Linked DNA regions of Homo sapiens. The protein of the gene in region 1 purifies or fractionates together with the protein of each later gene. This does not show direct contact. Each region holds a gene or a part of one and is shown in the gene's direction. Other genes may lie near its edges.

Evidence for each region.
Region 2: the proteins of GKAP1 (region 1) and TEFM purify together in Homo sapiens (affinity purification with mass spectrometry, with the first as the bait; one large-scale study listed by BioGRID). This does not show direct contact.
Region 3: the proteins of GKAP1 (region 1) and RIN2 purify together in Homo sapiens (affinity purification with mass spectrometry; one large-scale study listed by BioGRID and IntAct). This does not show direct contact.
Region 4: the proteins of GKAP1 (region 1) and ECT2 purify together in Homo sapiens (affinity purification with mass spectrometry, with the first as the bait; one large-scale study listed by BioGRID). This does not show direct contact.

What each region holds. Positions count from the first base shown.
Region 1 is NC_000009.12:83,769,178-83,774,748, reverse strand, and holds part of GKAP1 (G kinase-anchoring protein 1), read left to right. Parts: intron 1-5,571. UniProt on the Homo sapiens protein: Regulates insulin-dependent IRS1 tyrosine phosphorylation in adipocytes by modulating the availability of IRS1 to IR tyrosine kinase. Its association with IRS1 is required for insulin-induced translocation of SLC2A4 to the cell membrane.
Region 2 is NC_000017.11:30,902,133-30,908,289, reverse strand, and holds the start of TEFM (transcription elongation factor, mitochondrial), read left to right. Parts: upstream 1-2,051; 5' UTR 2,052-2,091; coding exon 2,092-2,122; intron 2,123-3,760; coding exon 3,761-4,224; intron 4,225-6,157. UniProt on the Homo sapiens protein: Transcription elongation factor which increases mitochondrial RNA polymerase processivity. Regulates transcription of the mitochondrial genome, including genes important for the oxidative phosphorylation machinery.
Region 3 is NC_000020.11:19,998,476-20,004,245, forward strand, and holds the end of RIN2 (ras and Rab interactor 2), read left to right. Parts: intron 1-2,137; coding exon 2,138-2,461; 3' UTR 2,462-3,981; downstream 3,982-5,770. UniProt on the Homo sapiens protein: Ras effector protein. May function as an upstream activator and/or downstream effector for RAB5B in endocytic pathway. May function as a guanine nucleotide exchange (GEF) of RAB5B, required for activating the RAB5 proteins by exchanging bound GDP for free GTP.
Region 4 is NC_000003.12:172,752,596-172,758,166, forward strand, and holds part of ECT2 (protein ECT2), read left to right. Parts: intron 1-1,913; 5' UTR 1,914-1,935; coding exon 1,936-2,065; intron 2,066-2,699; coding exon 2,700-2,779; intron 2,780-2,887; coding exon 2,888-2,980; intron 2,981-4,387; coding exon 4,388-4,570; intron 4,571-5,571. UniProt on the Homo sapiens protein: Guanine nucleotide exchange factor (GEF) that catalyzes the exchange of GDP for GTP. Promotes guanine nucleotide exchange on the Rho family members of small GTPases, like RHOA, RHOC, RAC1 and CDC42.

The sequences.
Region 1 (5,571 bases):
ACAGAGCCAGCCTCTGTCTCAAAAAAAAAAAAAAAAAAAAAAAAAAGGGGGTTTCTGTTTATTGATAGTTTCTTTTGCTGTGCCGAAGCTTTTCAGTTTAACTAGGTCCCGTTTGTCAGTTTTTGTTTTTGCTACAATTGGCTTTTTTTTTTTTTGAGACAGGGTCTTGCTCTGTCACCCAGGCTGGAGTGCAATGGCACGGTCTCAGCTTACTGCAACCTCTGCCTCCCAGGCTCAAGCAATCCTCCCACCACAGCAGCTGGGACTACAGGCACATGCCACCACTCCCAGCTAGTTTTTTGTATTTTTGGTAGAGACAGGGTTTCGCCATGTTGTCCAGGCTGGTCTTGAACTCCGGGGCTCAAGTGATCCACCTACCTTGACCTCCCAAAGTGCTGGGACTACAGGCGTGAGCCACCGTGCCTGACCTGCAATTGCTTTTGAGGAGTTGGTCATAAACTCTTTCCCAAGGCCAGTGTCCCCATTGGTATTTCCTAGGTTTTATTCTAGGATTCTTGTAGTTTTAGGTCTTACATTTAAGTCTTAAATCCATCTTGAATTAATGTAAAGTAGGTATAGACCAGGCACAGTGGCTCACGCCTGTAATCCCAGCACTTTGGGAGGCCGAGGCGGGTGGATCACTTGAGGCCAGGAGGTCAGAGACCAGCCTGGCCAATGTGGTGAAACCCCGTCTCTACTAAAGATAGAAAAATTAGCCGGGTGTGATGGCACGTGCCTAGAGCAAAACTGTCTACAAAATAATAATAGTAATAATAAAGTAGGAATAAGGTGATGTTAACAAATATGATTTTTGTTAGGTATGATGATGATAATATGGTTAAATTGGACAATTTTTTATAGCTGCATGTGAAAGAATTTCGAGATGAACTATCATAATAACTGCATTTTATTATAAAATACCTAGGCCCAAAAAGGAGGGCTAAATGTAGAAAATCCTTAAATCTAAATGTAGAGTATATGGATGAAAATTTTCATAATAAAAAGTTAAGAAACCAAACAAAATGAAATTATATTATTTAGTGATGCATCTGTAAAACAACAAAAACATGGAAATGATCAACACTAAGTTGAGGTAATGGTTACCTTGTCGAGGCACGAAGATGAGACTAAGGGAAGAGTATATAGATGGGCCATAAGGTCTGTAGGTAATATTCTAGTTTTTAAGTAGAATGGTGTGGGATCAAGTGTGTTTTTTTTTTAAACAGCTGTATTGAGTTATAATTTAAATACTATAAAATTCACCCATTGCAAGTATATAATTCACTCATGGTTGTGCAGCCATAAACACAGTCTAGTTTTGGAACATTTCCATAATCTCAGAAAATTCCCTCATAGCCATTTGTAGTCAATCCCTACTCCCACCTTCAGCCCCTGGCAACCACTGATCTACTTTCTGTCTCTAGAGATTTGCAGTTTCTTGTAACCTATAATGGACTCATAGAATGTATAGTCTTTGTGTTTGGCTTCTTTCACTTAGCATAATGTTTTTGAGGTATATCCGTGTTGTAGCATGTGGCAGTAGTTAATTCAGCCGTATCACTGAATAGTATTTCATTGTATAAATGTTGTTTATTCACCAGGTTATAGGCTTGCTATGCACATTTGACGTATGTCTTTGTGTGGATATGTTTTAATTTCTCGTAGGTGGTTACTTAGGAGTGAAATTGCTGGGTTGTGTGGTGAATTTATGTCTAACTTTTAAAGAGTCTGTCAAATTGTTTTTCAAAATGACTACCATTTTTCACTCCCACCAGCAATATATGAGAGTTCTAGCTCCTACGCATCCTTGCCAACGCTTGATATTATCTCTTGTTTTGATTATAGCCATTCTAGTGGGTATGTAATGTATTTGATTGTAGTTTTAATTTGCATGTTCCTAATAACTGGTGATTTCAGACATCTTTTCATATGCTTATCAGCCATTCTTATATCTTCTGGAAATATCTATTCAAATTTTTTGCTCATTTTTGTGTATTTTCTTATTGATTTGTATGATTTCTTTATATGTCTGAAAACAAGTCCTCTATCAGATACATGATTTGCAAATACTTTCTTCCAGGCTATGCCTTGCCTTTTCTTTTTAATTTTTTATTGATACAAAATAGATGTACATATTTTGGGGATGTCTTTTTGGTTTTTTAATTGTGTCTTTTGAAGCACAAAAGTTTTAAATTGTTATCAAGTCTAGTTTGTGACTTTATGGATTGTACTTTTGGTGTTCATTAAATAAATCTTTGCCTAACACAAGTCATGATGATTTATTCTAGAGGCTTTATAGTTTTAGTTCTTCCTTTAAGAGTCTGTGATCCATATTTTGAGTTAATTTTTGTGAATTGTGGCATATGCATAGACACTTCTCCCAGCACAACACTCTTATATCCTTAATAAAATACCTTGACACCTTTTTAAAAAGTAAATTTGATCATAAATATGAAGGCTCATATCTAGATTCTCAATTCTGTTCCATTGATCTGTATGTCTATACTTACATAAGCACCATACTGTCTTATTCATTGTGTGCTTGGTACCAAATAGGTGTGCAGAATTTGAATTAAACTGAAATTGAATTGGCTAGACTTATTATGTTAAATATTTTATGTTCTTACATTTGCCATATTTTAATCTTTTTTTCTGGTGTGTGTGGGATGTAGTAGTTGATTTATTTTTGCTTTTCTCCCCCCTATAGTTTGTTATCAGTATCTTTTGAAAAAAATCCCATCTCTAGATCAAAAAGAAACTTTGTGGCCTCACTCAAAAGTACTTAAGGGACAGAATGCCCTTTGTGATAGGCATGATGTGATGGTAATGGGAGCAACTATCAACAAGCAGGGACATTGGCTAGAATTATAATTATAATTATAATCTCTAGTGATATGAAATCCAGAGGCTGATTAGTTGCTAGCAGTATGTTATTCTTTCCACAGAAGCTCAGCAGTGGTTTTTAGCATTTCTGTATTTATTGCTGTAAAATAAAATCTTACAAGAATATACTGGAACTATTTTATGAAGCAGTAATTTTAGAGTTATGCCTGTATCCCTTAGCAATCGCACATGCATTCTTAAGGCCATAATTACTTGGGGGGGAAATAATACTTGCTCATCAACTTCTCATGATGTTTATGAAATTCAAATAAGGTAATGTTTGTTTAAGTGCTTTGCAAGATATAAAGTGTTGCACAACCATTTTTAATGTCATTCATATAGTAAGCACTGGTATACAAATAAATTTTTTTCAAACACTTTACTTTCTAAGATAATGTGAAGTGAAAAGTATGAATAATTATTGAACCTTGGGGTCGTTTGCCCACAGATACAATTGTGAATAGCTGTAGTTCAAGAATGTGGGGACAGGCATGGTGGCTCACACCTATAATCCTAGCACTTTGGGAGGCTGAGGCGGGTGGATCACCTGAGGTCAGGAGTTTGAGACCCACTGGCCAACATGGTGAAACCCCATCTCTGCTAAACAAACAAACAAACAAACAAACAACAAAAAAATTAGCCAGGAGTGGTGGCATGTGCCTGTAATCCCAGCTATTTGGGAGGCTGAGGCACAAGAATCGCTTGAACCTAAAGGGGTGAGGGTTGTAGTGAGCCGAGATTGGGCCACTGCACTCCAGCCTGGGTGAGAGTGAGACTGTCTCAAAAAAAAGAGAATGTGGGACATAGGTGAAACCAATGAGTGAGAGGAATGTTTTCTTCAGTCTCTGTCTTCATAACAGGATGTTGAAGAGGAAATGCTCCTTTTCTTGGAGAATGTAAAATTTCTAATATATAATTGGATAGACAGTGATAAAAATCTTATCTTTTAAAAATCTTCTATTGGCATGTGGAATTTATATAAAAATTATTTTAAAACGTAATGTAACGCCGGACGCAGTGTCTCATACCTGTAATCCCAGCACTTTGGGAGGCTGAGGCGGACAGATCACCTGAGGTCAGGAGTTCGAGACGAGCCTGGCCAACATGGTGAAACCCTGTCTCTACTAAAATACTAAATTACCTGGGCGTGGTGGCACATGCCTTTAATCCCAGCTACTCAGGAGGCTGAGGTGGGAGAATTGCTTGAACCTGGCCTGGGAGGAAGAGGTTGCAGTGAGCCGAGATCTTGCCATTGCACTCCGCCTGGGCAACAAGAGTGAAACTCCGTCTCAAAAAAAAAAAAGCAGTGTAAACGATTGAGCAACATAAAACTATAATAATCAAGACAATCTGGTACTGGCATAAGAATAGACATTTACAGATTGATAGAATAGGATTAAGAGTTCAGAAACAAACTATTGATTTTGGACAAGAGTCCCAACGCAGTTAAAAGGGCAAAAGAATAATCTTCTCAACACATGATGCTGGATATTGTCATGCAGAAGAGTGAATTTCGACCCTTTCTTCACACCGTGTACAAAAATTAACTCAAAATGGATCACAGAACTAAACACATGAGCTAAATCTGTAAAACTTTTAGAAGAAAATATAGGAGTAAATTTTTGAGTTAAGCAATGGTTTCTTGGATAAAATTGGACTTCATCAAATTTAAAAACTTCTGTGATACAAAGAATACCATCAAGAATATGCCAAGACAAGCCATGAAATGGTAGTAAATGTTTGTAAATCATATTCAATAAGATATAGACATTTAGAATATATAAAGAACTGTTACAACTCAAAAAAACAAGTAACCCAGTTAAAAAATGGGCAAAGGATCTGAGAAGACATTTCTCCAAAAAGATATACAAATCTTCAATAAGCACACAAAAGGGATGTTCAGCACCATTCGCTGTCAGGGAAATGCGACTGAAAACCGCAATGAGATAGCACTTCACACCCGGTGGCTATCATGAAAAAGGCAGATAACAACAAGTGTTGATGAGAATGTGGAGAAATTGCAACCCACTTGACTGCTGATGGGATTGTAAAATGATGGGCTGCTTTGGAAAATTATCTAGCGATACCTCAAAAGGTTAAACATAGAGTCACCAGCAGTTCTACTCTTAGGTATATACCCAAGAGAATTGAAAATACGTCCACACAAAATCTTGTGCATGAATATTATAGCAGCACAATTCGTAATAGCCAAAAAGTAGCAACAACCCAAATGTCTATCAACCAACAAATGGAGAAATAAAATGTAGAATGGGATATTTGGCAATAAAAAGGAATGAAGTGCTGATACAAGCCATATATGGATGAATCTTGAAAATATTTTGCTAAGTCAGAGAAGCCAGTCAAAAGTTCACATATTGGATTATTCTGTATATACAAAATGTCCATAATAGGCAAATCTATAGAGACAGTAAATAGATTAGTGTTGCCTGGGGCGGGTGGCAGGTATTAGGAGGAAATGGGGAGTGACGGCTAATGGGTACAGTTTCTTTTTGGGGTGATGGAATTGTTATATAGTTGATTGGGGTGATGGTTGTACAACTCTGTGAATATATTAAAAAACCAGTGTCTTGTACACATTAAATTGGAGAGTTGTTCAGTATATAAATAACAGAAATTTAAAAAGCAATATCTAAGTCCAAAAAATATGAAGTATGAAAGGAAATTTCC
Region 2 (6,157 bases), on another chromosome or scaffold:
ACTACAGGCGCCCGCCACCACGCCCGGCTAATTTTTTGTATTTTTTAGTAGAGACGGGGTTTCACCGTGTTATCCAGGATGGTCTCGATCTCCTGACCTCGTAATCCCCCCTCCTCGGCCTCCCAAAGCGCTGGGATTACAGGCGTGAGCCACCGTGCCGGCCTTCCTGTCCTCATTTTAATTAGTTACATCTACAATGACCTTATTTGGAAATAATAAGGTACTGGGGGTTAGGACTTCAACAAATCTGTTTTGAGGGATGCAATTCAATCATAACATCTCAGTAAACTGAATAAGCCCTACAGTTGAGGAAATTATTTCCTCCTGATTTGGAGGATTTTGCAGAAAAAAGTTGATGTTATTTCTTGTTAGATTCCTAAGTTCCCCAGAAACTGCCAAGGTTTCTAGACTTCCTATGAGCAATTTTTTTTCTTTTTTTGAGACAAGGTCTGGCTCTGTCCCCCACGCTGGAGTGTGGTGACACGATCTCCACTCACTGCAACCTCTACCTCCCGGGCTCAGGTGATTCTCCCACCTCAGCCTCCTGAGTAGCTGGGATAACAGGCGTGCTCCACCACACCCGGCTAATTTTTTCGTAGAGACGGGGTTTCGCCATGTTGCCCAGGGTGGTCTGGAACTCAAGAGCTCAAGCGATCCGCCCGTCTCGGCCTCCCAAAGTGCTGGAATTACACTTTGGGAGCCACTGCTCCCGACCAGCACATTTTATTAATACTTATGATTCCCCTACATCCCCACTGCCTTCCAGACACAAACAATCAACCCATTGCTGCCTCATAAAAACGCAAACTCATCACCTTTCCCTCCCTCCTGAATTCCCCGTTTTTCACAAAACTGGCTCCCCATCTTCCAGAAATAATTCTTTTCTTTCCACTCTCCTTACATCTCCTAGGTTCAATTCCTTACGGTTGGCCAGGCGCAGTGGCCCACGCCTGTAATCCCAGCACTTTGGGAGGCCGAGTCGGGCGGATCACCTGAGGTCAGGAGTTCGAGACCAGCCTGGCCAACATGGTGACACCTGTCTCTACTAAAAATACAAAAATTAGCCGGGCGTAGTGGCGCTCGCCTGTAATCTCAGCTACTCGGGAGGCTGAGGCACGAGAATCACTTGAAATCGGGAGGCGGAGTTTGCAGTGAGTCCAGATCGCACCACTGCACTCCAACCTGGGCGACAGAGCAAGACTGTTAAAAAAAAAATTCCTTACGCTTGCCTCTCACCTGGGAAGATACACTCTCTTCGCGACTTCTCATTGCTCCCAGGCTCTTCACCTGCAATCCAGCCTCACATTCGCTATACAGTATATGGCCAATTTTCTAGGAACACTCTCCAGTCTGACTGCAAATCATAAACCTCGGGGACTTCAGGCTTCCTATCTGGTGGAGTATTCAACTGCTCCACCCATTATTCAAGGACCAACTAAATTCGGCGCTACATTCATCTCCCTTTATCCCTTCTAAGAGGAATACCGCTCCAGCGCCAACGCAATCTCCTCCTCCCTCGCCTTTACCTAATCCCTTGCCTGCCCTGTTTCCCCGCTGAGCTCCTCAAACACTTCGCATCTCTCCCCGTTATTCCAGTCTACCTGGTGAAAAGGTTATTTGAGGACCTTGTCTACGCTGCCCCTACCTGATCCCGCTCCCGGCGCCACAGGCTGGGCCCCAACAGGAGCTCCTCAATCTAAGTGTCTAGGAGAAACCCAGGGAGTCTCCACGAAGGAGGCACTTTACCCACTACAGACTAAAACTGGCCTCGGAATCGCCTTCCTGGAGATTCGGCCCAGCGGCTCTCAGGAGTCGGTAGGGGCAAGAACGTTTCCCCGGTGCAGTGGAAGAAGACTGCGGGCCAGCCAGGGACTCGGGATCCGGGGACAGGGCCTCGGCAGGCGCCCGCCTGGAAGCCCGCAGCCCAGACGCGGACGACCCACTGCTCAGCGGGACACACCTCGGGCCTTGCCCCGGAACGCCGCTTGGACAACAACCTTTCCGCCGAGTGCAGGCCGAGCGCTTTTGGGCGCAGCACGCAGGAACCGGAAGTCAATGGAGGAAGACTGGACCTACTGATTCAACTTGGAGATGAGCGGGTCTGTCCTCTTCACGGCGGGAGGTAGGGTGCTTGGAACACTGGGGTGATTTCCCGTCTGTCATTAGCCTCTGACCCTAGAGGCTAATGGAATACGGCGGGAGGTAGGGTGCTTGGAACACTGGGGTGATTTCCCGTCTGTCATTAGCCTCTGACCCTAGAGGCTAATGGAATACGGCTGGAGGTATTCTGGAGGAACCTGGAGTGTTTCCTTCCTCATGTCCCTCATGTCCTAGAGTGTTTCCTTCCTCATGTCCCTTGTTCAGGCCCCTCTCTTGGGGCCCCAGCCTAGCTGACGGGGCAGTTTTCGGAACATTTGTGCTTCCCCGGCCTCAGGGTCCACGGGTGGCTCCTCAGAGTGGGCGGATGGTTCACATTCTCACAGCCGCTTGCTTACCTCTGGCCACATTACTTTCCTGTGGCTGCGATGTTAGAGTGACTTCCCACTGGTTTTACAAAGTTATGCATTGTATGGTGTTTCTCATACTTGCAAAAACGTCATGTAGAAGTCTTGAAAAGTGTACGGAAGAAAGTAAAACTGCCCTTAAATCTATCACTTAGCTGAAACATTTCTTATAAACGTACAAAATTTAATTTTATTTAGTTCCACCAGATGAGATACTAAAATGTGAAAATGGAAGTGAAGACAAAACCCTTTTTTTTTTTTTTTTGAGACGGAGTTTCGCTCTTGTTGCCGAGACTGGAGTGCAATGGTGCGATCTCGGCTCACCGCAACCTCCGCCTTCCGGGCTCAAGCGATTCTCCTGCCTCAGCCTCCCGAGTAGCTGGGATTACAGGCATGTGCCACCACGCCCGGCTAATTTTGTATTATTAGTAGAGACAGGGTTTCTCCATGTTGGTCAGGCTGGTCTCGAACTCCCGACCTCAGGTGATCCGCCCACCTCGGCCTCCCAAAGTGCTGGGATTATAAGCGTGAGTCACCGCGCCCGGCCTAAGACAAACCTTAACAGGAAATATTAGTTACAAAAAGATTCCTCTAAATTAAAAATATCAGAAACTTTAAGCAGTTGGAATAATTATTTCAACTACTTGCTTCCTGATGGGTATAAAATACAATTTTCTAGGTAGTAAAACTTCGGACTGATCCATAAATATCGGGAGACATCTCTCGTGACTTGAAAACAACAAAAGCTCTATTTAAAACTCTATATAATATAGTTTAAAAACTAATCCTCTTTTAAAGATGATTCTCGGGCCGGGCACAGTGGCTCACGCCTGTAATCCCAGCACTTTGGGAGGCTGAGGTGGGCGGATCACGAGGTCAGGAGATGGAGACCATCCTGGCTAACACTGTGAAACCCCGTCTCTACTAAATATACAAAAAATTAGCCGGGCGTGGTGGCAGGCGCCTGTAGTCCCAGCCACCTGGGAGGCTGAGGCAGGAGAATGGCGTGAACCTGGGAGGCGGAGCTTGCAGTGAGCCGAGATCGGCCACTGCACTCCAGCCTGGGCAACAGAGCAAGACTCCGTCTCAAAAAAAAAAAAAAAAGATGATTCTCCAAGACAATTTAATATTGTCCTCTATTAGTTCTTAAATTCCAGGAAAGTATTTGTGACTTTGCAAAGGATCTAGTCAAGCTTGCAACTAACCCCAAAGGAAGTAGGACATCCAACTTATATTTTGCTAAATTTTCCTTTTAGAGAGGTGGAGATGCTTTCTGACCCCGTCGAGGTCATCCCTGTACTGGGCCTTACATAATTTCTGCTGTCGGAAAAAATCCACTACACCTAAGAAAATTACTCCCAATGTTACTTTTTGTGATGAAAATGCAAAGGAGCCCGAAAATGCACTTGACAAGCTCTTCTCTTCAGAACAGCAGGCTTCCATCTTGCATGTGTTGAATACAGCATCTACTAAAGAACTTGAAGCTTTCCGATTGCTTCGTGGAAGAAGGTCCATCAATATCGTAGAGCACAGAGAAAACTTTGGGCCATTTCAGAATTTAGAGAGTTTAATGAATGTGCCCTTGTTTAAGTATAAAAGTACAGTTCAAGTTTGTAACTCCATACTTTGTCCAAAGACTGGACGGGAAAAAAGAAAGTCACCGGAAAACCGGTTCCTGAGAAAGCTCCTCAAACCAGACATAGAAAGAGAAAGACTTAAGGTATATTCTTCATGTCTGCTATACTGCCTAATATTTGAGAACCTACTCTAGAAAGCACTCTTCTGGGCATTGGGTTGGGAAGTGGCTAAGACAGGGTTCTTCAGGTTTAGTTGGCAAGTATATGATCACTACCAAATAATGAGATGTACAGATAGTAAATTGGCAGTTGAGAGGAGAGAAAACAATGGGCTGTGACTGTTGTGGAAAGTTTACTGGAAGAACTCAATTTAGGTCTTAAAAGAGAGATCCTTTGGATGGGAGAGGAGGGCATTGTAGGTAGAAAGAACAGTTGATGCTGAGAAGCAGGTCTAGGCAAGGCTTATTTAAGAGGAGTGTCGTTGGAGATACCAGGCTGTGTCTAAGGGTGATGTTAGGATTAATGAGAAATTAAGGAGCAAAGATAGGTTATGGCCAGTGAGTGACTTTAGAACATTATACCAGTCTTTCCGGCAGAATTTAAAATTATTTTCTGTACCTTTTCTCCTTTAAAAAGCATTTTATCTTGAATCATGCAAGTCTATAGGTAAGATTAAAAAAAAAAAAAAAAAGCGGCTGGCTCACACCTGTAATCCCAGCACTTTGGGAGGCCAAAGCGGGCGGATCACAAGGTCAAGAGATCCAGACAATCCTGGCCAATGTGGTGAAAGCCCATCTCTACTAAAAATACAAAATTTAGCTGGGCATGGTGGCGTGGGCCTGTAGTCCCAGCTACTCGGGAGGCTGAGGCAGGAGAATCTCTTGAACCTGGGAGGCAGAGGTTGCAGTGAGCTGACATCACGCCAGTGCACTCCAGCCTGGCTACAGAGCAAGACTCTGTCTCAAAAAAAAAAAAAAAACACCATTCTAAAAGCAATTCTTTTTCTATTGTCTTAAAAAAATAAATACTAGAAATATTTGACACAGCCAATTTTTTTTTTTTTTTTTTTTTTGAGACAGAGTCTTGTGCTGTCGCCAGGCTGGAGTACAGTGGCATGATCTCACAACAACCTCCACCTCCCAGGTTCAAGCGATTCTCCTGCCTCAGCCTCCTGAGTAGCTGAAACTACAGGCACATGCCACCACGCCCAGCTAATTTTTGTATTTTTAGTAGAGATGAGGTTTTACCATGTTGGCGCCAGGATGGTCTTGATCTGTTGACCTCGTGATCCACCTGCCTCGGGCTCCCGAAGTGCTGAGATTACAGGTGTGAGACACTGCGCCCGGCCACAGCACTCAAGTATTAAACTTTAGAGGAACTCATGTCCTGTGTAACATTGCTTGATAATCATTATCTCATAAAAATCATAAGCACCATTTTTTTTCTGGACCAGTGGGTCCGTTTTTTGAGGAATATGGGTACTTTTGAAAACCTGATGAAAGCTGTGGACCCTCTTCCCATAGAAAAAGATATAGCACATATACACAGAATACTACACAGTTTCAGAGGACTGGCAGATTCTGTTAAGTCCACTCATGGACTCCAAGTAGAACTGCTGCAATTGATCTGGAACATATTTTAACCAAATTCTTCAGGGAGGATTCTCATCCAGATTCATGGCCAAAACTATTTATACCCAGATTAGAGTGGAGTTGCATCTTATTTAGGGGGCTGGATTTTAAGTCAGTTTTTATGGAGATATAAGTCATGCAGTAAAATCCTTTAAGAAAAAATCGATTGCCGACGAAGTATTGTGTGTAGTCTGGTTCAGTAATGCTTGTGCACAGTAAAGCTTGAGAGTCACTTAGCTAAAGAAAACCAAAAGGAAGTCTGTATTTTGGGCATCTATACTATTTTGTCTTTAAGATATTTATCCAGTCCTTAGCAATGAAAGGGAGATGGGTATACAACTAATTGTTCCTGTTTATTTGCCTCTGTATCTATAGAACATATTAGTTTGTTAATATAACTAAGTGAGCCATGTTGGGGAAAGGTGATAGCATTGTACTTCATCGT
Region 3 (5,770 bases), on another chromosome or scaffold:
TGGTGCACACCTGTAGTCCCAGCTACTCAGGAGGCTAAAGTGGGAGGATCCGTTGAGCCCAGGAGTTTGAGGCTACAGTGAGCCATGATCACACCACTGCACTCCAGCCTGGGCAGCAGAATGAGACCCTGTATCAAAAACAAACAAACAAAAAGGCAAGCCCATCTTTGAAAGCCAAGATCAGCTCATTCTTCTCCATGATTGCAGTATGCTCAGAAATTCCTTCTGGAGCGCATAAACCTAAAGAGTGAGAATACACGCACTGCACTCTCCCCACCCTGTTGCACTAAGAAGGTCCCTGTGCCACTCAGTGCCTGCAGACCCCTGGGGTGCCATCATATAGCCATCCAGGGAGGGGCTGCCTAGGGCAGAACAGAGGAAGTGAAAAAAGTTCATTGTTCCTTTCCCCACCTGCCAACACACCCTCCTCCACCTCTTCACCTGGAGACCCTCAGACACCATAGAGCTGCCTTCTTCTGCAGCCGTCCCCTCCTGCCCTCATTGACCCTGCTCACCTTGGAGGTGCATGCCTTCTCAGAGTGTAACCGAAGAAGGAAATGTTCAGCACTCGGCTCAGGGGTCAAAGCAAAACCTCAGACCCAAAGCTCCATCTGGAACCCCTAAATCAGAGGCCACAGACACAGAGGTCTTCTCACATGGGAAGAGGTAGTACGTCTTGGTGGTAAAGGCGGTGGGGCTGCATCTGCCACGTCCTAGCTGTGTGGCTTTGGGCAAGTTACGTAGCCTCTCTGTGCCTCAGTTTCTGCACTAGTCAAACAGGGATTATGTAGACCCTGTCTCTTAAAAAAAAAGGTTCAAAGAGTGTCACTGTCAATCTGGGCACCTCCCACTAGCTCACCTCTCCTGCAAAGTCACTGGGCTAGCAAAAGTCCCCACTGGAAGCAGATATGAAACATATCTTACATGTGCAGAGCTCACTGTCCTTCCCAAGAGCTTTCCCTTCTGTTATCCCAGGAAACCCTCGTGGTGACCTTGCAGGCACCTGGGCAGAGAGCCCTCCTTCCCTTCACTGCTGAGCAGGGTTGCCAGATTTAGCAGAAAAAAATCTATTTGTTTTCTAGCTGAAACTCAAATTTAACTGGCTGTTCTAGATTTCATCTGATAACTCCACTGTTAAGGAAACAGAAGCAAAGTTATCTGGGGTCACAAAATCTAGGAGAGCCTGATGTGAGTTTAAGATTCTTTATGCCTGGTCTGGGCTTTGTATCTTGTAAGGCCACAGGTTTACATGTTTCATGATAGCATGTACCTGGCATGATTGCAGCACCTGAGCCTGCAAACGTCTTTGTTTAATTCCCTGCAGCACCACCTTGCATGTAATCAGCTCCATCTGCAAAGTATTTGGCAAAATCAACATTCTTCTCCTTCTGACTTTTTCCACATTGTGCCCAGAGCCACTAGGAGCCTTGTATTAGATTGAACTACATGAAATCACCATTTGGGGGAGATAAAAAATAGTCAAAAGTCAGCGCATTTTGTGTGTGTGTGATTCAACCTAAATGATTGCCCTTGCTTAGGATTTATTTAAAAAGTTTGTCAAAAGTGAACACAAGCCAGGTACAGTGGCATGCACCTGTACACCTAGCTACTCAGGAGGCTGAGGCAGAAGGATCACTTGAGCCCAGCGGTATGAGTCCAGCCTGGAGAATATAGTGAGATCTCATCTCTTAAAATGAAAAGAAGAAAACAAAAAGTGAGCACAGTACGTGCTTTTGTGTCTAGATATTTTAAATCTCTTTCTGCTGACTTCCTTCATACTCTTGTGCTATTTGGTTTAGTTTTCAAGCTGGGAATAAACCCAGCATTGGATGTGGTTCACACTCTTAAGCAGGGGTTTCTTAACCAGACCTTATGAGGGAAATGGAAAGATCAGAACCAGGGCTGCATGGACTTCCTGCTTCTTACAGTTGCAATGAATCATGTAGTCATCTTCGCCACTGTCCAAAGTCAGATCAGCCTCTTTCCTTGCCATTCGAAGCCTCGTGGCCTGACATCGGACATTATGACAGGAAAGGGCCTGGAAATGGCTTACAGTTACCCCCTCCCCTGGTCCCCCATCATGCTCACTATCTAGTTTTCTCTTCTGACTGTCTCAACATTCCTCTTCCACCTGCAGAATTACCTCCGAGTTGCATTTCAGGAGGTCAACAGTGGTTGCACAGGAAAGACCCTCCTTGTGAGACCTTACATCACCACTGAGGATGTGTGTCAGATCTGCGCTGAGAAGTTCAAGGTGGGGGACCCTGAGGAGTACAGCCTCTTTCTCTTCGTTGACGAGACATGGCAGCAGCTGGCAGAGGACACTTACCCTCAAAAAATCAAGGCGGAGCTGCACAGCCGACCACAGCCCCACATCTTCCACTTTGTCTACAAACGCATCAAGAACGATCCTTATGGCATCATTTTCCAGAACGGGGAAGAAGACCTCACCACCTCCTAGAAGACAGGCGGGACTTCCCAGTGGTGCATCCAAAGGGGAGCTGGAAGCCTTGCCTTCCCGCTTCTACATGCTTGAGCTTGAAAAGCAGTCACCTCCTCGGGGACCCCTCAGTGTAGTGACTAAGCCATCCACAGGCCAACTCGGCCAAGGGCAACTTTAGCCACGCAAGGTAGCTGAGGTTTGTGAAACAGTAGGATTCTCTTTTGGCAATGGAGAATTGCATCTGATGGTTCAAGTGTCCTGAGATTGTTTGCTACCTACCCCCAGTCAGGTTCTAGGTTGGCTTACAGGTATGTATATGTGCAGAAGAAACACTTAAGATACAAGTTCTTTTGAATTCAACAGCAGATGCTTGCGATGCAGTGCGTCAGGTGATTCTCACTCCTGTGGATGGCTTCATCCCTGCCTTCCTTCCTTTCTTTTTCCTTTTTTTTTTTTTTTTTTTTTTTTTTACAAAGAGCCTTCATGTTTTTATATATTTCATAGAAATTTTTATAGCAGTTGCAGGTAAACTGTCAGGATTGGTTTTAAAATATTTTTGTAACTTTAAAATATTCTATAATTATGCATGTGATTTTAACATTTAATATTCAAAAATAAATCTCTTGCTGGATTTGAGAGTATTGCATTTTTAAAGTCTCTCTTCTGTAACTGGATGTTTTGGCAACTTTGTGGGGAGAGACTGCTGGATTTCTTAAAGCAACGTATTCCTGACACTGGCCACAGAATGCCTTTGGAAATCGGATGTACTGTTCTCTTGTTCACGTTTAGTGGTGTTTTGCTGTTTTGTTTTTTAAACAAATGATGCTGAGAATAAGGAGAGAAATGAATGTAGAGAGAGGTAGAGAGAGAAATATGAACTCTAACAAAGGACTGAGGAGTGCAGTCTGCTGGTTCAGGCTCTTCAAAAGATGTAGAAAAAGAGATAGAAGGAACCACCTATGCTTAAAATACTGTAAATATGCAGTGAGGTTTGGCAAAATCTATTCCATGTGTGATTTGCTTGTAGAAACAATTTTGAAAGCCCCTTGAGGAAAATAAAAATCAAGAAGAACACTTTTCTCCCTTTTCCATACAAATTAAAACTTAACAGCATCAAATTATTGGGACCAGAAACCAAGTAATGTATAATGTGGCTTTTGTTGAGTTAAATAAGATGCTATATAATGGAGAAGAATTTGAAAATGCACAAAAAAATCAATCTACATTATCAGAACCTGCAGTGAAATTAAACTTATGTTAAATAAAACCAGTTTGCAGGTGCACAAACTATGAGGGTCTTGTATCCACGTAACACAGGTAGTTACAAAAACATGTTATTGTACTGTGTAAAGATGCATAGTCATCTCATTTGGTTGGCTTTGTACCTTGTACCTTTTTTAGCCTTGGCTTTTGTTGAACTAGAACCCTCAGCACATACTGTGTTGTACTTTTGTAAATGATTTTTTAAATGGAATTTTGCACATAATACATTGTAATACTGTATGATAATCATGTGTGAAAATAATTTTTGAAATATCCTTTGGCTGTTTTTTTTTTTCTTTAGAGTAAGAATATATTCATGCACCACGCAGTGTCATGGACAGATGAAATCCGAACCAGGGTTTGTGGTTAGACAATGTATCGTGGGGGTGAGCAGAAAAGCTCACATTTCTCAGAAGCTCCTCCTGATATGGGGCAAAAGTTAAGGAGCAGAAGGAAAAGATCATCCTCCCACCTGAAAGTGTTTTCATTGTTATCTAGTGCTGTACTTGGCTCAGTGGGACTTAGAGCAAATCACAGGTAATTTGAACCCGGAGTTAGCTGGGGTCCTGCAGACAGCCCCACCCTGTCCTCACGTAACCTCTGCAATGCCCTGGGTGACAGTTCAGTGCTGTTGCAAAATTGATAGCGCAGAGGCTTGGACTCCTCGCTGCCATACTCCCCATGCTTGGAAGGGTGCCTGGCATATATTAATAGTAAGTGCTCAATAAATCCTTGCTGGCTGAAGGAAGGAAAACATGAGTTTAGAAGGGTTTCTAACTCATCAGTGGGAGAGATCCGTAAAGATCAGAATGAGAATTGAATGGGCTGCCTGCTTTTGATATTTACAACGGACCAAAAGATGACAGCTCAATCCATATGGTTGTCCTCCCAACTCTTCAAACTAAGATCATCATGCTTTGTTGATTTAAAGCAGGTCACAGCCTCTGGATGCGAGGCAGCCTTGCAGCCTTCGGTGGGACGAGAGCGGGCTCAGAAGAGGAAAAGGTAGCGTGGGCAGAAAGCAACATCACAAGACGGTCCCTGGTTTTGTCATTGGGCAATGTTTCCCCGTTAAAATTACAACACAACATGTGCCTCCACTTTTTCCCCCACGCAGGCATTTCTCACTTCTCAAATTGCCAGGAAACAGACTTGGGTGAAGGTTGGAGGGAATAAGAGGAGAGTAAAAATATACATGCTGGGTGGAGGAAGAGGAGAACGCATTTCCAAATTTAAAAATACATTATAGCTGAGGTGGGAGGATCGCTTGATCCCAGGAGTTTGAGGGTGCGGGGAGCTATGATCCCGCCACTGCGTTGCAGCCTGGACGACAGAGCAACCCTGTCTTCCCCCTACAAAAAAGTAAAAATAAAAACATGTTATAAAAGTTGAACGCCGGCCAAAGGAAGGGATTTTTTTTTTTTTTTATGTTGCATGCGCTGCCAAATACTTTCACTCTAGTACCACCCCCACACCCCCGGGACACAGAATAGAAATAGAAACTGTTGAAGTAGTTCATATTATGTGGAGGTTACAACTTCAGATCTATAAGAAAATACAAAGGACAGGAAACCCAGCTATGAATGCTTCCATTCACAAATGCGGTTCCGTCCTCATTGGGCAGCTGTTACCTTCATCTTCTTTAAGAGACTTGAAATGAGGCAGCGCTCCAATCTTTAACGCCTGCTCATGCCGTCATGCCTGGTCACACCTAGTCACTCCTGGTCTCCTACCAGCAGTCTCAGAGAAACAGAAACAGCACAAGAAGGACTCCGAAGGGCACAGTGTGTGTGGAACACAGGCATTTTAATCATCTGGCAGTATCTGATAGTAAAATTCTAAGTGTCCTCATTTTTTCGGCCCATTTTCATGATGGTGAATTTGAGACCAAAAGTACTTTTTGTCATTTGGTTAACTCTAATTCAGTTGGAAATATGGGAAAGAAATCGCCTAACATTGCAAAATCCTAAATACGTGATAAGGAAAGGAAGGAAAGAAGGCAGAGAGGGGCCAGGCGCGGTGGCTCATGCCTGTAATCCCAGTACTTTGGGAGGCCAAGGTGGG
Region 4 (5,571 bases), on another chromosome or scaffold:
TGGATAGAATTTATCATTGATTCTAAATTAAGGCTGTTACAACTATTGGACCGCTCCTTTGGAGAGCCTTAGAATAATGATTGACATGGATGTATGGTAAAGCCATAAGAAATATCCATATTGTGAATATTACATGAGAATAGTTGTTTGTTGTTCACTTTAAGACATCTATTCAGTTTTCATCTTAACTAGATTTGAGTTGTAGTACTATGTGTGTTCCACCAATGTGGAAACTGAGGTTTAACTGACTATGTGCAGGGCTGAGACAGGAAGCTGAGTTGCCTGATTTTGAAGTGTCACATAACAGCATACAGTTTAAACTGTTACTTTGCTAAGACTCTGGAGGAAGGTATTTGTATATTTTATTAATCTGAAGAAGTAGGAAAGGGGAAAGTCTGACATGTAGCTCTCGTTAAAGGTGGGTCCTCTGTATATTTGCCTAATATTTAGAAATTTACTCTCAGTAAAGTTGACTTATTGAAAATTGATAAAAAAATCTCTAAAAAAATTTTTTTAGAGAGACAGGGTCTTGCTCTGTCACCTAGACTGACTGGAGTGCAGTGGTGGGATCACAGCTCACTACAACCTCAAACTCCTGGATTCAAGTGATTCGCCCACCTCAGCCTCTTGAGTAGCTACTATAGGCACCTGCCACCCACACCTGGCTAATTTTTAAATTTTTTGTAGAGATGGGGTCTTGCTATGTTGCCCAGTCTGGTGTTGAAGTCCTGCCCTCAAGTGATCCTCCTGCCTTGGCCTCCCAAAGTGCTGGGATTTCAGATGTGAGCCCCCAACCCACCCTGATGAAAACTTGTTAAACCTTTTATTCCCTGTCTAGCTTTTAAACTCTTCTTAAGTCCTGGAAAACTTAAAAAAGGATTTTCTTTCATAGTCCAGAGTTATATTGGCACTCACCCATGCATAATTGTTTTGTCAAACCTTTTAGGGGAGAGGTGTTTTTAAAGAATTATGAAAATACTGACAAGGGACCAGCCCAATTATACCGGAGAGGTTTAGAGACATCCACAGAGGATGAGTCAAGAGTGTTGGATTGGGGGTTGGAAGACAAGATAGGTGGAGAGTCGAGCACTAAATGCAAATAGATGTGATGTAAATTATGATTTGTGCCTGAAAAATAGCTGAGAAATTCATTGTTGCTGTTGCATAGATTGTATAGGGACTGGGGTAGTTACAGATGGTGAGGGTGAATAGTTAGGCGGGGACCAAATTGTGAACTTGGTGGTGAATTTGGACTTGGACATATAAGGAGTACTCATGGAAGTTGTTAAGCAGGGAAGTGATATGGTCACATTTGTATTTAGGTGCATATTCCTGAAAACCATGTGGAGAGTGATTTCTAAGGAAACTGATGGTAAAGTTGTGTGGAGCTGGTTTATTAGACCAAGTGACCATTGTGTCATTGAACGTATAGAGAAGGGGGGCCAGATTCCAGAGATACTTGAGGTGGGATTGATAGGAATTTTGGGGAGGGAAATGTGGGAGAGGAAAAAATTAGGATAGATCTCAGATTTTTGGCTAGGATTTTTGTGGGAGGTGTGTTATGGTGGTGTTATAATTGAATATAGGAAGAGAAATTGGTTGAGGGCAAAGGTGTGGAGAAGGGAGGTAGAATAATATTTATGACTACAGTTGAGTGTTTGTTGTATGTCTAGTAATGTTCTATGTGCTTTTGATACATTGTTATTTTTATTATATTCCTGTGAGTCAGGTATTAGTATGTTTATTTTACAGAAAAAGAAACTGAGGCTCAGAGAAGGTCAGTGACTTTCTTTGGTTCATTAAAAAAATGGGTAATAATACTTTTTATAAATTCTAGGTAAAAAGAGCCTCTAATACTTACTTTTGCCCAATGACCATGTTTATGTATTTTTATTCAAATTTTATTTTTTCAGCTGATTTAGAAGAATACAAATCATGGCTGAAAATAGTGTATTAACATCCACTACTGGGAGGACTAGCTTGGCAGACTCTTCCATTTTTGATTCTAAAGTTACTGAGATTTCCAAGGAAAACTTACTTATTGGATCTACTTCATATGTAGAAGGTAAACCTGTTACCTGCTTTAAAACAATCAATTTCTATTTTAATTCTAAACTTATTAGTGACTTTCTTAAGATTTAATTTTAATACCAACTGTAATGCTAGAGCACAGGTATTAAGTAAATATTTGTTTACAGAATCCTTTTACACTATGTCATTTTTCTGATTATTATTTGGGTTATTTGTATGCTTTGCAGCTTTGAAAAGGGAGGCATCTTAATTTGGATATTCCTTTTTCTGTATGTGAGGGCGGTCTAGCTACAGCATTATTAGCTAGAAGTTATACAGTCATGACTGGTTAGGTGAAAGCTACTTTTTCCTTTACCACTTTATAAATGGGTTTTTCCTAAAATTATATGCACTGTTGAGGAGGATGACTATGTAAGATAGCGCATTCTCTGGCTAGGAGGAATGCTGATGTTTGTATACCCTGCTACAATATGGTTTCTCTTTCTCTAAAGTGATATATAGCCAGATATTTTTGTAATAAGTTGGGAGTTGAGTCCTATTAAATTTAGAGAAAGTTATGATTCCCTCAAAGATGTAATACATACTAGATATAGCCAAAAGAGCGATAAGGACCTACTGATTGTGATGTTAATACATGATAAACATTGAAACATTTTACATTTTAACAGAAGAGATGCCTCAGATTGAAACAAGAGTGATATTGGTTCAAGAAGCTGGAAAACAAGAAGAACTTATAAAAGCCTTAAAGGTACGGAGTTTTAGGTTTTAGTTTTTTTTGTAATGCAATTTTTCTTCCATCAGTGTGTAAATAGTTTCATAGCTTTCTTAACCTCATACTTAAGTCTCTTTTCCACAGACTATTAAAATAATGGAAGTCCCTGTTATAAAGATAAAAGAAAGTTGTCCTGGAAAATCGGATGAAAAATTAATAAAAAGTGTTATTAATATGGTAGGTCAAAGTAACTCATTGCATGTGGCATGCTGCACTTCCCTTGATTGTATTATTCTACTTTCTGGTGATTGGAATTAGGCACAAGGTGTATTGTGTGCAATCTGAAGCTTAATGAATAGAAACTGTTTTATACTTTTTAACTCCTTAGCTTCTTTTTTCTCATTCATTTTATATTTAGTCTAAATTCTTGCTGTATTTCCAAAATTATAAATCACGGTAATTTATAATCAGGGAATTTGCCTCAGCATACGAAATAATCTAATTCTGGAATCCAGCTGTTTTAGTTTGCTAGGGCTGCCATAACAAAATACCACATAGTTAATTGCTTAAACAGTAGAAATTTCTTTTCTCACAGTTCTGGAGGCTAGAAGTCCAAGATTAAGGTGTGTGTAGGTTTAGTTTCTCTTGAGGCCTCTCGCCTTGGCTTGCAGTGTCCTTTTGCTGTCCTCACATGGCCTTTCTTCTGTGTGTCCTTGCATCCCTGGTGTTTCCTCTTATTGGGACACCAGGTTGGATTAGGGCCCACCCCTATTATCTCATTTAACCTTAATTACCTCTTTAAAGTCCTTATCGCCAAATATAGTCACACTCTAAGGACTTCATTCTTCATTCTAGGTTAGGGCTTCAACATGAATTTTGGGGGTACATAATTTAGCACATCACACTAGCCTTGCAAATAAAATTCAAATAATTTACTGACCCATTTTGAGTTAAAAAAAAATTTTTTTTTTAATTTAACACGAGTTACAAGAGTTATATAGGTACTTTAGTATCTTCATTATTTTTCGTGGATGTATAAAGTGTTTACTGTAAGTAACTTGCCTTTTTATATCCTACATTTGCCATGCTGCAACTGCTACATATTGCACATCTTTCTCATATATCTTACATATCTGCTAAAATGATTATGCTGATTTTCCTTTCTGTAAGTATTAAGTGCTATAGTATTATTTTCCTATTTTTCTGAAGATAGTTAATTTGTACAATAAGAACTTTATGTATGGTATCATTTTCTTGGTCAGTAGTGGATATCTTTCTAATGCATCTTGATATCAAAATGCATGTACTTAAAAACTTTAGCATTCTAATTTTATGGAACTTATGCATACTTGATGATTTATGACTAATAAGTAATAAGTCAGAATTATGCCTTTATAATACTGATCTTTAAAATTTAAGAACTTAATTTGAATGGAGATATGTATATGTAAAAATGTAAGTACGTAAAGAAATATGGTTGTTCATTAAGTGTAATGCTGATTATTGTGTGATAGAAACTTATTTTCTACAAATATAAACATGTTAAAGTTGATATTGAATTGATTGTTAAGCCTTATTTAGAGAGACAGATGGATTATTTGATATATAAATAATTTTTATTTCTGCTAACTATATGATGAAAAGGACATTAAAGTGGGCTTTGTAAAGATGGAGTCAGTGGAAGAATTTGAAGGTTTGGATTCTCCGGAATTTGAAAATGTATTTGTAGTCACGGACTTTCAGGATTCTGTCTTTAATGACCTCTACAAGGCTGATTGTAGAGTTATTGGACCACCAGTTGTATTAAATTGTTCACAAAAAGGAGAGGTAAGCATATACATTTATTATGACTTTTCAAGTTAAAATTTTTATTAATGAATTTTAATTAGCAAAAAATTTATTTGGAAAAATCTCATTGATTGCTGAGAGCAAAATATTTAGAATAGGAATAATAGTGGCTATTCTAATGTGGTCCTTTAATTCCTCCATTTTAAACTTAGTGGTGAAAAGCTAAGGCCTTTGAAAGTTAAATAATGATAACTGTACATATGCATATACACAGACAAATACATAGTCCTTTTTTTTTTTTTTTTTTTGAGACGGAGTCTTGCTCTGTGCCCAGGCTGGAGTGCAGTGGCACGATCTCAGCTCACTGCAAGCTCCGCCTCCTGGGTTCACGCCATTCTCCTGCCTCAGCCTCCCCAGTAGCTGGGACTACAGGTGCCCGCCACCATGCTCAGCTACTTTGTTGTATTTTTAGTAGAGATGGCGTTTCACCATGTTAGCCAGGATGGTCTTGATCTCCTGACCTCGTGATCCACCCGCTTCGGACTCTCAAAGTTCTGGGATTACAGGCGTGAGCCACTGCGCCTGGCGTATACACTATCAATACCACAATGTCTTAGAGAAGATTACTTGCTTAAACTTGGGTTCCAGAAATTCATACATATACATAAACTTTTATTTTTCTCAACACAGAACAGATACCACGGTTCCATTTTTATCAGTTACTGTATAACTTAAAATTCAAAAATTATTTTAGCTTTTTGTATTTATTTATTTATTTAATAAATAAATACACGATCTCTGCTCACTGCAACCTCTGCTTTCCCGGGTTCAAGCGATTCTACTGCCTCAGCCTCTCAAGTAGCTGGGACTGCAGGTGCATGCCACCACGCCTGGCTAAGTTTTTTCTATTTTTAGTAGAGACAGGATTTCACCATGTTGGCCAGGCTGGTCTCGAACTCTTGACCTCACGTTATCTTCCTGCCTCTGCCTCCCAAAGTGTTGAGATTACAGGCATGAGCCACCGTGCCCCGCTTCTTTTT